2 linked regions of the Homo sapiens genome follow. The protein of the gene in region 1 purifies or fractionates together with the protein of each later gene. This does not show direct contact. Each region holds a gene or a part of one and is shown in the gene's direction. Other genes may lie near its edges.

Region 1 (7,669 bases):
CAAGTTTCAGGCATAAGGACTGCTACACATAATCTTAGCCATGGGCAACAGTTTATTGATTTGCTATAAGCTGAAAACATGATCTAATTCTGCCCCTAAAAAGGGTATACAATTTACAGGCTTCCCCTTGGATTCCTCTGGACAGTGAATCCTGCAGAAGTATAGAATGCGGATGAAGCCTGGAAATCAAAGATATCCCTGGGGAATGCAACAAATGGGAGTGATTTCCTCTGGCCCTCTGGCCTTTACTCTGTTAGAGTCCAATCTCCCTAGTGGAGACTCCGGCAGCCTGAAGGGAAAAGACAAAAATAGTTTCTACCAGCTGGCACAGCAAACAGAACCAAGGCTCATGAATAGACAGATACACACATATTCAGCCCTTAGGCCTCAGCCTTCCCGGCATGTTTTGGAACTCTTTTTCCACTTTCAGGCTGAACTTTTTGTCCCCAAGCCCCACACCTGCTGAGAGATGAGTTTGCTGAAGAGGGCCCAGGCAGTGTCAAAAGTCTGGAGTGAACTGGATACCATAAGTGGCTCCTACACCAAAGTCCTTGAGACTGTTACATTCTTTAGACCTGAACCCACAACATTCCCTGCCTGGGGAGCAGTTTAACAAAGTACTGACTTGTGTGCCCCTACGTTGCTAACCCCATGTAAGTCCTAAGTTGAGCACATTGGCAGTTTCAATGGAATAAAATGGCATGTGCACTTCCTTCTGCTATTTTTCTCCTGAGAAAATAAAAGCATGCCAAAATTAAATATCCCTTAGCACTTGTACCCAGACAGCTGAGTGGACTATTTACTAGCTAACATTCATGGTCTGCTTTGTAATCGCTTGACTCTGTCTTAGTTGCTTGGGCTTTGACGCTTCAATCATCTGTTCTCTCCCTTCACAACTGAAGTTTGATGGAACTTTAAAACTGGGAAAGCCTTTGGAGAGCGTCCTGTCTTGTTTTACAGAAAGAAAATCAGGGCTTTGAGAGGGCACGATGTCATACTGCCTCAGCTTCTCAATTGTGTTCACTTTGCCCTATATCACCCAGCCTCTTCTTTGTATGATATCAGGGCCTGTGCCCACCTGTCCTTTGGATCACCAGAGAGCTGTTTGGAGGCACACTGGCACCTGAGAGGGATCATTAAGCTGGGAAGACAGTGCCTCCATCAGATACAGCTAAAAATAGGAGCCTGCCTGAGAGCAGAGTCAGCTAGCGCGATTGTATGAGACAGGAGGGGCCTCTCCAAGTGCTCACTTGATGCTTCACCTGTCCTCCTGGAAGGATGGGCACACCAGCTATCCAAGGGGCAGGGGCAGGCTAATAAAACAGCCACACACACGAAGGGCGACCATGCTGCATCTGAAGCTGCATGAGCCGCTCACTGGGTAGAGAGATTGTCCTTTTTGCAGCCACATGATAGGTGGGACTATATGGTGTGATTAGAAGGAGTAGAAAGGCGGCCGGGCATAGTGGCTCACGCCTGTAATCCCAGCACTTTGGGAGGCCGAGGCGGGTAGATCACGAGGTCAGGAATTTGAGATCAGCCTGGCCAACATGGTGAAACCCTGTCCCTACTAAAAATACAAAAATTAGCTGGGTGTGGTGGCGCACATCTGTAATCCCAGCTACTCGGGGGGCTGAGGCAGGAGAATCACTTGAACCTGGGAGGCAGAGGTTGCAGTGAGTCAAGATAACACCACTGCACTCTACTAAAAATACCAAAAAAAATTAGCTGGGCATGGTGGTGGGGGCCTGTAATCCCAGCTACTTGGGAGGCTGAGCAAGAAGAATAGCTTGAACCTGGGAGGCAGAGGTTGCAGTGAGCCAAGATCGTGCCATTGCACTCCAGCCTCTACTGGTTTGCTGGGTGATGCCTGAAACCTTTCCATTATGAAGGAATTTGGAAGTCCTAAAGACACTTGGAAATTATCTACTTCATTTCCCTCAATATGTAGATGACAGAAATAAAGCCCAGAGAAATTAAGCACCTCAACCAAGAACAAACAGCCTAGTCTAGGACTTCCCAAAGCAGGATTTCTGAAATAATAGTTTCACAAGTTGTTCTTTGAAAACAAAATTTATTTAAGGTTCTGAAATCAGGTAATTCAAGCAATGCTACATTCTCTTTTCTTTGTCTAGTCTGCTTCTTCTTTATCGAACATATATTTATTCAGTCTCAAAATGAGGTACACACTTTAGAGATGTGGTCTAACCTGGCAAAGCTGAAACTAGCCCATGAGTGTCCAGGTTTCAGGACCAAAAACAATACAGCTACCTCAAACAAAAAGAATATTCCCTGAGGTTAAACCACTCATAGTGCTTTGTGAAAATGGTAATACTCCAGAGCCAGGCATAGCTGACTGGTGTCAGTCAATAACCTTTAGCATGATATATTTACCTAAGGCTTTTCTAAGCAGAGCACTTGTAACCATACGGCCAAACAGGTAGGCCTAATCCTGAGACTACTATCTTGAGAAAGCTAGTATGGATAATGAGGCTGGAAATGAAGTAGGGCAACCTGGAGATGGGGCCGTCTGAGGGGAAGAAGTCAGAAAGAGGGAGAATGGCATAAAAGAAAAGGTGACACGTCAGCAAAATCACTCCATGAGCTTTGGCGAGTGAATCAGTGATCATTTCTCATGGAAAGGAAGCAGACAACAAACACAGCCCTTCCAAACAAAGTATCCCTGCCACACTCCACCAGCAAAACACACCCTCGCCACAGCTCCCAGAGCAGTCACTTTGGAAATTAATTCTTTTCTATAGACTTCATGTGCTAGATTTCTCTCCTCGGCAATCACATAAGATCTAGAAAGGAACTTATATTTTAATAGAATTTGTTTTAATTATGAGGAAAGGGTGTCTGCCCTATCAATTAAGTCATGCTTCAATTAGTACAGCTATCATTGGGGTCATTACTTTAAGTATTTGAAATGTCTACTTAAATAAGGTCACTTTCAATTTGGTAAACACGCCTAAGTCATCATATTAATTCACAGCCAGTCACCCAAGGAATGCTGAGTAAGTAAACAATCAAGCATTAGCTAACTAGCCACAAATCCATCTGACTTTATTAATTTCTCTCTTGGCAAAGAAGCAAGAGAAGGAAGCAAACCATCAGAAACATTCTCACATTGTTCATTCACTATACATTTATTACATACCAGGTGCCAGGCACTGTGCTTAGGTTTCAATATGTTACTAATATTCACAACTCAGTATATATGAATGTTTTTAAAAAATGAAATCCAATTTTCCCAAAAATAAAAGTTTCAACTCCTCAGATGTTTTATCTTATTTCTGCCTGATATGCCTTCCTCCACGGGGTGTGTGATACATCCCAACTCTTCAGCTTCCAGGTTTTCTATCCCTCGCTCCAAAAGACTAATCACCTGACAAGTAATTAATGAATATAAACTCACACTAGAAGTACTAGAGAGGCACTCACTATTTTAAAAGTCCTAGGAGAATACGAGTGGTAAAAAAATACTTCTATTGTTGCACTCAGATTTTTTATATATACATTTGGGTTTTGTGTTAGAAGGAGTAGCTTACACTTATTCAAAAACTTTTTAAAAATACACATATATATATATTCAAAATGCAGACAGAGATGTATACATCCTAGGAATAAAGTCTGAAAAGAGTACCACTTTATCAGAGGAATTCCCCTTGCCTCATTTCAAAAGAAACACCCCCTTTCCCATCTTCTTCTGGCAACACTGAAAAACTGGCACCCATCCAAATCAATATCCAAGAAAAGACCCACACTGAGAACTGACCTCAAGCAAGTCACTGCTCATCACTAAGAAAAGGAGTTGGCCTGGAGATGTCCCATGTTCCCTCTATGGCCTGCAGATTAGGGGGTCCAATGTCACCTAATCTACTACAGCTCCATGGGGAGCGGGTACAGATACTATACACATCCACACACTGAACCCAGCCTGGTCTCCAACACACACATGCTGCAGGCCCCTACCCATGAGGCCCCAACTCCCCCAGGGAGTTCCAGCTGGCTTACCAAGACACATAAAACACCCTCACACCACCCAGAAGGAGAGGTGAGGAATCTCTTTCCCTCAGCCAGGCAGTCTCCTGAGGCTGCTGACATCACAAAGGTGTCAACTGGCAACCTCATTGTCATGTGGCTCTCCCCTGGCTCCCCTTCACTTGCAAACGCAGGGAAAGGGTGAGACCTTTCAAAGCTGCCAAGTGGGCAAGCTTCCAGCAGCAGTCTGGGAGCGAGCGACAGAGCCACCAAGCTGGGCGGCAGGGCATTGAGCCTCGCGTTTCAATTTCTGTTCAGTTCTCCTGTAATGGAAAATTGCTTTGCACAAAGCTAAAGTGTTACAGTTCTTTCCAGAGCCCCTCCCCCGCCCCACCCCCCCACCGGCAGCCTTCGGATCAGAGGACAGAGCCCGCAGGAAGGTGAAAGGAGGGTGGTTGTGGCTTCTTACTATGTCCCTTGCTTCAGGCCCTGGCCCTGGGTGGTTACTCTTTTCCTTTGGAATGGGGCTGGTATCAGGGTCAAAGTGTCCAAATAATTGTCTGTGTCAAGCCCAAGAAGTAATCTGCACAGGGAAGCAGTTAACCGAATACCCCCTTGACATACCCCTGAACACCCGGAGGCTGTTCCTGAACGAGAACAGAATCACTAGTTTGCCAGCAATGCATCTAGGACTCCTCAGTGACCTTGTTTATTTGGACTGTCAGAACAACCGGATTCGAGAGGTGATGGATTATACCTTCATCGGGGTCTTCAAACTCATCTACCTTGACCTCAGCTCCAACAACCTAACCTCGATCTCCCCATTCACTTTCTCGGTGCTCAGCAACCTGGTGCAGCTGAACATTGCCAACAACCCTCACCTGTTATCGCTTCACAAGTTCACCTTTGCCAACACCACCTCTTTGAGGTACCTGGACCTCAGAAATACCGGCTTGCAGACCCTGGACAGTGCTGCCTTATACCACCTCACTACTCTGGAGACCCTGTTTCTGAGTGGAAACCCCTGGAAGTGCAACTGCTCTTTCCTGGACTTCGCCATCTTCTTAATAGTGTTCCATATGGACCCCTCAGGTGAGGGCTTGATTGGGTGTGGGGAAGAGGATGTGATTGAAGTGGCTCCAGAAAAGGTGAACTCAAAAGATGGTCAGAATGGGAGAAAAAGTTGGGTGAAGCTGATTGAATGCATTCTTATTACTCTGCAGGGCCCACCCTTGGGTTGACTGGAGTAGCAGTAAGAAAAAGTTCTGAAATAGGAATTCAAAGAGCTGAGTTCTGGTCCCAAACTCAGCACTTACCAGTTGGCTACCCTTGAAAATGTCACCATTTCTCTGAGCCTCAGTTTTCTAATCCATAAAGTGGGGACAATAATATTACCTAAGGCACAGAGTTGCATCAAATATATGATGTGTGTAGAAATGATGAAGTACTCTAATTGCAAAGTGACAAGGTAATATAGGGACACTGTATTCTGTTGGTAAACTGTTTTAATCTGTTTAATTCAGCAACTGAATTTTTCCAGGATCAAAAAGTAAATTCAGTCATTCATATAGGATTATGATATATAGAAAGGAAAGTTTAACATAAAGATGGAAGGAGGGGCACGTGAGCTACCCAGACAGTGAGAGAGGGAGGGAAGAAGGAAGAAAGGGCTTTTGATAGCTGCTTTGTTTTGAAGATGCTGGCCTCCTATGGAAGGAGAGAATGGCATGAATCAATGGAGAAAGGGTCCAGTGCTCACTGTGTCAAGCAGAGAGATTCTAGTCTTACAGGTAGATAGATGCTCAGCTCTTACCTGGGAGATTTCCAAGCTCCTTGCCACCACTCTACCCGCTGTCCTCACCCGGCCTGCCACGGCCCCTGTGCTTCATTCCCTCTTTATCTTAGGGACTTTACTGTCTCATCCTTACCCTCCAATTCTTCTCTCCACCAATAATAGCATTTTTACCCAGGAAAGTCAGAGCTTCAGAAAAATGAGAAATAACTCCTCACAGAAAGTCTGGAGCCACTGATGTAATCCGGCAAAATTGGACTCTGGGTAGAAAATCAAATCCTGTCAAAACCATGTAGTTTCTGTCTTCCCTGGGTGTTTGCCTTTGAAAACGTTTTCATAGACGCAGCTTCATAAAACTCCTGCTGAAACTTCCACCATGAAGTACTGCCCAGGTGGCAATATGCTAGAAATAATCCTGGCCAGAATGACAGACTTCAAGGAGAACTGGGGGAGAGAGAATCAAGTGGTGACAGTAAGTAAAAAACGTGCCCTCCTGGCTTCCCAATGGGTGTGTCTCAAAAAGTCCTCCTGGCAGAGTCTGGACTGGGATGAGGCAAGCAGGGCTTTTAGGAGGCAAAATTTAAGGAGGCACTGAGAGCGAGTGCACTGAGAATAAGACATTGTGAGTCAGTGCCTCCTTAAATGTTGTGCCTTAGACACCTGACCCTACTGCCAGATACCTCAACTTGAGTTGTTAGAATAAATCAAAAGAAACTAACTTTGTCAGACCATCTTCCAACAGGACTAGAATGCAGAAGCAGTTATCTCAGGTAGGTTGCCTTGCCTCTCTATAACACCAACTCTAGGAGGCAGAGATAATGTTTTCTACTTTTCTCCAAAACTGTGATAGTGTCTAGAAAGCACTATCAAAGAGGTTCAATATTAATCATCCTCATGCATGACCTGTGGTCCATAAAGGGGATTCTCCCCTGTCCATGTTCCTGTAAATTAGCCTGTGGAAGGGTGTCATCTTCTTTTGCCCCTCCCCACCATACATGCACTTTTCCTTGAGTATAGCCCATCAGGTTGCAAGTGGGACCTCCCACCCCAGATGACAAGAGTAACATAGCTTGGCTTCCACCCCAGCACCTAAGCCTACCATTTCACCTCCCACTCCATCTCCCTTCATCAGATTTCTGCTTGCACAGTTGTATCTTCTCAGAATTTTCAGGCTGACCACTTTGGACTCCTTGACTCTTCAGTTCAATCCACAGTTGAATGGGATTATAAAGTAGATCTTTTTCACCGCATATTTTCCAAGACATCAGAAAGGAGTGTCTATCTTGTCAAGATTATAAGCTCCTCATGAATGAAGAGTCTGTTTTGTGAGGTAGACAAAGCTTTCATCCCCCAGCCGTGGGACCCCACACACGTACCCACAACTGCTAATTTGCTCATCTCCCTCCATTTTTCCACACATGGTACCTCATTTCCTTTAGCATGAGTGTCACACCAACACTTAAACTTGTGCCCTCAGCCTGTGGAAGAGTCTAGGATTGGTATTTTTAACCCTATCCTTGGATGAGAAAATAGACTCACCTGCCCAAAATCACACAGCTGATAAATGGCAAGAAAGTGACTTGAACCCCTTGATTTCAAATGCAGGTCTTTTTCCACAAGACTATACTATCTCGTAAATCCTCAAATTACATAACTATCATCCTGTAAGTGAGTTTAGTTATAAATATAAGTTATATTATAAACATATGGCTACAGCATCTAAACTTCAGCTTTATTTTCTATCTGGCTGCCGCTTGGAACTGGGAAATGATCTTGAGATCATTTTCATTGGATAATAAGCACTAACCGTCATAAATCCATTGATATGCCTGTACTTCCCTTGCAAACCCAGGTTTCACCCCAGTCTACCCCAACTCCAAAAGGGTGAATCTA
Region 2 (7,583 bases), on another chromosome or scaffold:
CCAGGATTGATCCGGGAAGTGACCCAGAATGAGCCAGAAGGTTCACAAGCCAGAGTCACAGATGTCACCCCCTGGAGAATCACCATGGGGTCAACATCCCCACCCCTGAGGGTGTGCAGGCTGCCTGTGCCCTTCCCCTCACTGCACCAGGTGCCTCTGGGCAGAGAAACCCAGCCCATGACTCATGTGCACCCCACCTGAGGTGGCATTGCACCAGCGACAGGAGCCCATATGCTCAAGTCACAGATCACAGAGCCACAGGTCTGAGGGTTGGAAGGGCCTTTCAGGGGCCCTGCGTGCTTTTCTGGCTCAGCGTCTTATGGAGAAAAACCCTCGTGTGGGTCCCACTGGTTTCCCAGGGACACTGGAGAAAGTCCCAGACGAGCCTGCCCCACTGACGGTGTCTCTTCCTAATGAGGGGTCCCGAGGTCCTGTGCCCTCAGAGCCTGGGCTTGCCTCCTGACCCTCCAGCTGCAACCCCATCCACGTCCGCCCCATCCTCTCCCAAGGCGGGACAGGCGGGGCAGGTGCGGGGAGGGGTGGTGGCGTCTATGGAGGAAAAGCCTACCCCCTTGGCGTGTGGGGGTGGCCTGGGGCTGCTCCTGAGTGTCCGCCTCCGTCCCGCCCCCTGCCACCCTTCTTCACTGGTGAGCTCCATTGCCCCCGCTCCCCGGGGCACATGGGCTTCTCCCCGCTCTTTCCCAGGAGCAAGGCCTTGCTCCTGTCTGAGCCTGCAGCTCTACTGCAAGGAGATGTGGCCTGGCCCTGCTCCTCTTCGTGGAAGGACCCCGCCCAGCCGGTGTCCTGGGGCTGCCACCATCCCTTCCCTCATGCATGAATCACCTGAGCCCAGCTCAGGGTTGGTGGCGCCCAAGGGAGTGGACGCAGGTGGAGGAGAGGCCCTCACCTGTCTTCACCGCATGGCGTGTGGAAGGCGGGGCCGGCATGTTCTGAGGGCGGGGGCTGAGGCGTGCACCTGTGTGTGGAGGTGACGGGTGTCCTCCTCGCTCAGGTTGTTTAAGTTGAAGGAGCGCTACCGCAACGTGCTGGACACCATGTTCGAGCTGCTGCCCCGGATGGCCAGGTACTGCCAGCCCCCACCCTGGCCTGCAGGTCCAGGTGCCGTGTGGCAGTGCCCCGTGGGGGCGGGAGCCGAGTGGCAGTCGGGGGAAAGGAGTTCCACAAAGGACTGCAATCGAGGGCCTGACGGGGCTCCAAGGAGCCTGGAATCTTGACCACCACAGGTCTCCTGGGCACCATTTTTCTCCACTGACCTGTCTGACATATTTAGTAGGGAGGGCAGGGAGCTGTCAACTCGCTTACCACCTGTGTCTACATTCACAGGTAAGGGGTCACCTGTGAGTCTACCTTCACAGGTAAGGGGTGAATCTCTGGGAAAGGGGCATTTGTTCATAGCGTCCTGACTTGAGCTGTTTTTCACCCCAGAGCTGCCCCACGAGGCCCCTTCCCCGCAGGCACTTTCCAGTTGGTGAACCGACCAGGGGCATGGCCCTGCAGTCAGCCCCACGGGTCCGAGGAGGCCGGGGCTGCAGAGGAGCCGTTCCCTCCTGCCGGCCCCGCGTCACCCTGCCCCTGTCGCCCCACAGCCTGGGCCTCACCCTGCTCATCTTTTACTACTCCTTCGCCATCGTGGGCATGGAGTTCTTCTGCGGGATCGTCTTCCCCAACTGCTGCAAGTGAGTAGGCCCCACCCAGCCCCAGGCAGCCTGCATTTCCCGGGCAGAGGGCTGGCCAGGGCCAGGATTGGTGTCCTTGTGGCCTTGGGGTCCTCGGGGATGTTCCTGTCTAAGCAACCACCTTGCTTTGCTTTCAGGGCTTAGTTGAGTGCAGTGAGCTAAATGAGGGGCCTGGACTCGGGGTCCCTGTTTCTCCATCCCCCAGGCAGGGTTGGGAGCTGTCAGCTCACCCTCTGCCGAGGGCTGGAGGCCACCCCCACAGTAGCCTGGGTCCCAAGGTCAAGTCCCATGGCTTCCTCCCACTTCTCTCCTGGAGTGGCTGGGGACCTGGGCCAAGACCAGTCTTCTAGGGACAGCATCGTAGGATAAGACAGACGGACACGTGCAGGAAGGTCATGGTGCTCAGGGATGGGGAGCAGAGAGTGAAATCTCCCATGAGCACTCCCTTTCTCCTGAGCCGCCACAGTGAAATCACTGCACACTGCCATTCATTCATCCTCAATTCAGAGAGTCCTCTTACATTTGGTCTTTACAGCCTCAAGCACCGATGAAGAAACAGTTTTACAAAGACACTGGTAGCTTTGAGACCCAGTTTGAGTGTCAAGCTTGGTCTGGAACCAGAAGCCTATAGCAGTGGGTCCCAGACTTTAGAGCCCATTGCAGTCACCAGGGAGCTTAGTGCAAGCTCCAGACCTCACTCTTGTGTCTGATGCATGCGTGTGGGAGGAGGCTCCCTGGTGGCCCAAGCACTAGACTTTTATAAACATTAGCATGGATATTAACAGAACAGCCATAAAAGATTGGAAGGAAAGTGGCAAATAAGAGCTCCTCAAAACAGGGCCAACCTTTTCAAATACTTGCTCAGGCCAAGTATTGGGGAAGCCCCAGTAGGGAATTCCTTCCCTGGGACTGTGGCCTAGTGTCCAGCCTCAAGAGCAGATCCTAGATGGGGCAGGTGCAGAGGAGGCCCTTGCCTCTCCTCCCTCCCCTGCAAGCAACGGTGAGAGAGAAGGCCCTGCCTGCAGCAGACAACTTCCAGGTGACAGAGGTGGGTCAGGCTGGCCAGGGGATCCCGCCAAGCCCAGCAGGCAGGAATAGCCAAGGGCATTCCTTCAGCAGGGACCCAGGCATGAGGTGGAGAGGGTTAGGCAGGAAACCAGGCTGCGGGCAGAACAGAAGGATCCTTGGCCAGAACTCGGTTTGTTTCAGACTTCTGTCCTCTCTGGAGGTGACTGATCGCCTTGTGACCCTCCCTCCTTTCTCCCTTGTGCTCCGGCCAGCACGAGTACAGTGGCAGATGCCTACCGCTGGCGCAACCACACCGTGGGCAACAGGACCGTGGTGGAGGAAGGCTACTATTATCTCAATAATTTTGACAACATCCTCAACAGCTTTGGTGAGTGGGAAAAATCACAGGGGGCACATTCCCTGGGGACCCCACCCTTGTCACCCTTGTCACCACGGGTCCCAGAGGTGGTGTAGCAAGTGTCTGGGCCACACTTTCTGGAAGCCTCCCTGGCCCAGGTGGAGGACTTGGTCTGCCCAGCTTTGGCAGTACAGTCCAGGCTGGATCCTGGAGCTCACTCAGTTGCCTGATTCCACTCTTTCCTGATATTTTCTCAGTACCGGGGAGGACAAGAGTTGCAAGCCTTAGCTGGGCGGGGTCCCCTCATCACAGTGCCACTTGCAGAATGGGACCCAGCCACACCACTGCTGCTGCAGCTGCACTGCCCCCTGGCTCAGACTGCACACAGCCCTCTGCCCACTCCCATGAAGAGGCGAACACAGCCAAACCGCCTCTCCAGAAAAAGGGTGTGCCCCCATGACACCCCAGATCTGCACCCAGTAAGATCCAGATAGTCTGATGTGGCACAGGCTGCTGAGGCAGAGGGTGTGTTCTCTTGGGGGCAGGCCATGATGTCCTGTGGAGCCAGCGCCCTAGGAGTGCCTTGCCTGGTCTTTCCTGGAGCTCACAACCCAAGCGGTCATATGGTGACCCTCTCATCTTAGCACATGGCACCCAGGATAGGTGGCAAGAGGCCACTTGAAATTGACTTTGAAGTGGGGTCTCATCAGGATGCTTCTTTCTCTCTTCCCTCGGCAGTGACCCTGTTTGAGCTCACAGTTGTCAACAACTGGTACATCATCATGGTAAGAGCTCGGGCAGCTCTGGGGGTATCTTCCCGCCAGCCCTGGGGTCGGCCCTGGGTCTCCCCCAACCCAGAGTATATAATTCTTCCCGTAGCTTGCAGGGCTGGGGGTCTTGAGTCATGCTGTGTTGGTGTTCAGTGGGGAGGCCACAGGATGGCTGGGCCCCAGGAGCCACCCCTCCCAGTGTTGGCTGGACTCGGCTGTTACTCCCATCTCCCTGCATGTCCCCAGCAGCCAGGAGATGCCACTTAGACTCTGGGTCTCTGTCCTGTCTCGCCCACTGTAGAGATGACTTTTCCCTCTAGTGACAAAGTGGCGAGCATTGCTGATCTCTTTATTCCATTCCTTAAACTTTCCCGACTCCCAGCCCTACTGGGATAAAGGCTGCCCTGGTTCTGGATCCAGTCGTCCAGGGGAGTGGCCAGGGCTCCTTCAGCAGTCAGGAATTAGTGTTAGGCCCAGAGGGGCAAGCTTCCTCTCCTCCATCTCTCACAACCAGCCACAAATCACGGTGGGGTCTGCGAAGAGCCGGGGCCATGGAGCAGCCTGTGTAGACGGGGACCTGCCCTGCATGGGCACCCCCTCACTGGCTGCTTCCCTTGGTCTCCAGGAAGGCGTCACCTCTCAGACCTCCCACTGGAGCCGCCTCTACTTCATGACCTTTTACATTGTGACCATGGTAGGTCCCGGACCACAGAACGCTCTTTGTCCTTCGTCTTCCACATCACCAGCTGCCCCTGCTCTTCAGCCTGCAGCGTCAGGGAGTGGGGCTGGGTCCCATCTGGCCGGACTCTGTTGGGCGTGGGCTGCGCAGCCACGGACACCTACCCACCCTCCTCCCCTGCCTCTGCCCCTCCCTCCCTATCCCTGGCCAGGTGGTGATGACGATCATTGTCGCCTTTATCCTCGAGGCCTTCGTCTTCCGAATGAACTACAGCCGCAAGAACCAGGACTCGGAAGGTCTGTGCAGGGATGATGCCTTGGGCATTTGATATCTGCCGCCTACCCAGCTCTGTCTGTCTGTCTGGGTGGCTGTCCAGCCAGCCATCAGGCTGTCATTTTTCTGCTGTCTGGCTGTCCAGCTTATCTATCTGGCTTGTCTTTCTAGATCTTGTATTTGCATTGATTTTCAAATATTTAATGTCAGAAAACGTAATCTAACTTTAAAATAAGACAGAGCATGTCATAGTTGGAGAAAAATCAAGAAGTAGAGAAAGGCTTATGTGGCAGCAGCAGCCCCTGCCCTGCCTTTCCCTCCCGTCCTCCAGAGGCTTCTCCTTCTTGGCTATTTCTTCTGTTAGTCATCTCCACGTTTCTCAATAATAGGTTCACACTACGGTTCTTGATTTAAATGGTGTAAATATTGCTTATGGCACAGGCGAATCGTATTCCTGCTGCAACTGGATGGTGCTGGCTTTAGTGACTGCCTCACTCTTCCCAGATTGCACAGCTTTCTGTGTGCTGACCCTCCCTTCTTCCCAAATTCTCCATCAAAACTGTCTGCACTTGATCTCTTGAGCCCAGGAGGTCAAGACTGCAGTGAGCCATGATCACACCACTGCACTCCAGCCTGGGCAGCGGAGTGAGACCCTGTCTCTTAAAAGAAACAGAAAACCCTGTGCCCACACTTGTTACCTCTCATCCTCAGATCTCTGTGCTATCAGACCATCTGACCATTTTCTCTGTGCTTAGAGGCCCCTTCCTGAAACCCTCTGGCCCTGTAACAGCTGCCAGCTAGACCTGCGCTCCTGACATCACAGCAGAGGGAGGGGAAGGGAAAGGAGGGCCAACGAGGAGAGCAGGACACCAATGCAGTGTCGGTTTAGAGAGAGAACCTTAAGACCCCCTGCGGAAGGGGGCAAGGAGGTACGAGACCCAGCCAGGTTGGCAGCTGCAGCCCCGGGCCCTTCCCACACCTGCCTTCCATCCCTGCAGTTGATGGTGGCATCACCCTTGAGAAGGAAATCTCCAAAGAAGAGCTGGTTGCCGTCCTGGAGCTCTACCGGGAGGCACGGGGGGCCTCCTCGGATGTCACCAGGCTGCTGGAGACCCTCTCCCAGATGGAGAGATACCAGGTGAGGAGCCCAGGCCCTGGTCCGAAGGAGGGAGGCAGGTTTCAGTGTGGGTGGCATAATCCCTTCCCTCAGATATTGGTAACATTTTGAGTGACACAGTTGCAAAAGCCAGAGAAGTGGGAGACGCCAACTGTGGCACCAGGGGTGGGACCTGAATATCTGCAGCCGAGCCCTGCAGCCTCTGCTCTTCCTTAGCAACATTCCATGGTGTTTCTGGGACGGCGATCAAGGACCAAGAGCGACCTGAGCCTGAAGATGTACCAGGAGGAGATCCAGGTAGGAGCCTGGCCGACCACGCTGCGAATCCTCCCCCAAGCTATGTCCTGGGAGGGGCAGGGAGCTGCTCTCTGGCCCTCTGAGTAGAGGGAGAAGGCTGGTAGAGAGATGCAGACCGTCCATCGGGACCACTGCTGGGGTTGTGTGGGACCTGAGCGGGGCTCACTTAGCCTTGAACCCTTGACTCGTGCCCAGCAGAGGCAGCTCTCCAGCCTGCCTGCCGCCATATGTCCCTGCCCCTTATGAATTCTCCAGAACCTCCTCTCCATCTCTTACTCTGAGTCAGCTGCAAACTCAAACATGTGTACTAAGAAACACAGTGAGCAAAGAGGAAAGAGCGGCGACCGTGGTGAACTGGCAAGGATGTCCCTGTCCAAAGGAGACAGTCTCCTCCCAGCTCCAGGATGTGCCTGTCCAAAGGGGACACAGCCTCCTCCCAGCCCCAGCGAGTGCTGCCCAATAGGAAGAAGGCCCTACTGCGGTCGGGCTGCTTGGTGTTTTGTTTTGAGATGGAGTCTCGCTCTGTCTCCCAGGCTGGAGTGCAGCAGCACGATCTAGGCTCACTGCAACCTCCGCCTCCTGGGTTCAAGCGATTCTCCTGCCTCAGCCTCCCGAGTAGCTGGGATTACAGGCACACGCCACCACACCTGGCTAATTTTTGTATATTTAGTGGAGACGGGGTTTCACCATGTTGGCCAGGCTGGGAGTGCTTGGGATTTTTCATAATTGGGTGTTTTTTGTTTTGTTTTGTTTTAGAGATGGTATCGCTCTGTCACCTGGGCTGGAGTCCAGTGGCGTGATCATAGCTCACTGTAGCCTCCAACCCCTGGGCTCAAGTGATCCTCCCCACTCAGCCTACCCAAGCAGCTGGAACTACAGGTGTGCACTGTGACACCCTAATTACCTTATTTTTGTAGCAGTGAGGTCTTGCTGGGGTCTCAAACTCCTGGTCTCAAGCAATTCTTCCACCTTGGCTTCTAATTTAAGAAAAGGCAGGCCAGGCATGGTGGCTCATGCCTGTAATCCCAGCACTTTGGGAGGCCAAGGCAGGCGGATCACTTGATGCCAGGAGCTCGAGACCAGCCTGGCCAACATGGTGAAACCCTGTCTCTACTAAAATTACAAAATTTAGCCAGGCCTGGTTCCGTGCACCTGTAATCCCAGCTACTGAAGAGGCTGAGTCAGGAGAATTACTTGACTCCAGGAGGCAGAGGTTGCAGTGAGCCAAGATCATGCCACTGCACTCCAGCTTGGGTGACAGAGCTAGACTCTGTCTCAAAAAAAAAAAAAAAAGGCAGAATCAGATGTTTTTCTTTTTTTGCATGACCTCCCAATCTTTACATATTGGCAGCTAAGGAAAATATCTCACAAAGCACCGTGTGGG

What was found.
Region 2: the proteins of LRRC52 (region 1) and TPCN1 purify together in Homo sapiens (co-immunoprecipitation; 2 studies listed by BioGRID and IntAct, with this or other methods). This does not show direct contact.

What each region holds. Positions count from the first base shown.
Region 1 is NC_000001.11:165,539,843-165,547,511, forward strand, and holds the start of LRRC52 (leucine-rich repeat-containing protein 52 precursor), read left to right. Parts: upstream 1-4,157; 5' UTR 4,158-4,454; coding exon 4,455-5,076; intron 5,077-7,669. UniProt on the Homo sapiens protein: Auxiliary protein of the large-conductance, voltage and calcium-activated potassium channel (BK alpha).
Region 2 is NC_000012.12:113,287,151-113,294,733, forward strand, and holds part of TPCN1 (two pore channel protein 1), read left to right. Parts: intron 1-1,012; coding exon 1,013-1,084; exon of another isoform or gene 1,085-1,344; coding exon of another isoform or gene 1,345-1,348; exon of another isoform or gene 1,349-1,376; intron 1,377-1,446; exon of another isoform or gene 1,447-1,509; intron 1,510-1,607; coding exon 1,608-1,697; intron 1,698-2,977; coding exon 2,978-3,093; intron 3,094-3,801; coding exon 3,802-3,848; intron 3,849-4,372; exon of another isoform or gene 4,373-4,458; coding exon 4,459-4,527; intron 4,528-4,723; coding exon 4,724-4,808; intron 4,809-5,783; coding exon 5,784-5,923; intron 5,924-6,118; coding exon 6,119-6,199; intron 6,200-7,583. UniProt on the Homo sapiens protein: Intracellular channel initially characterized as a non-selective Ca(2+)-permeable channel activated by NAADP (nicotinic acid adenine dinucleotide phosphate), it is also a voltage-gated highly-selective Na(+) channel activated directly by PI(3,5)P2 (phosphatidylinositol 3,5-bisphosphate) that senses pH changes and confers electrical excitability to organelles.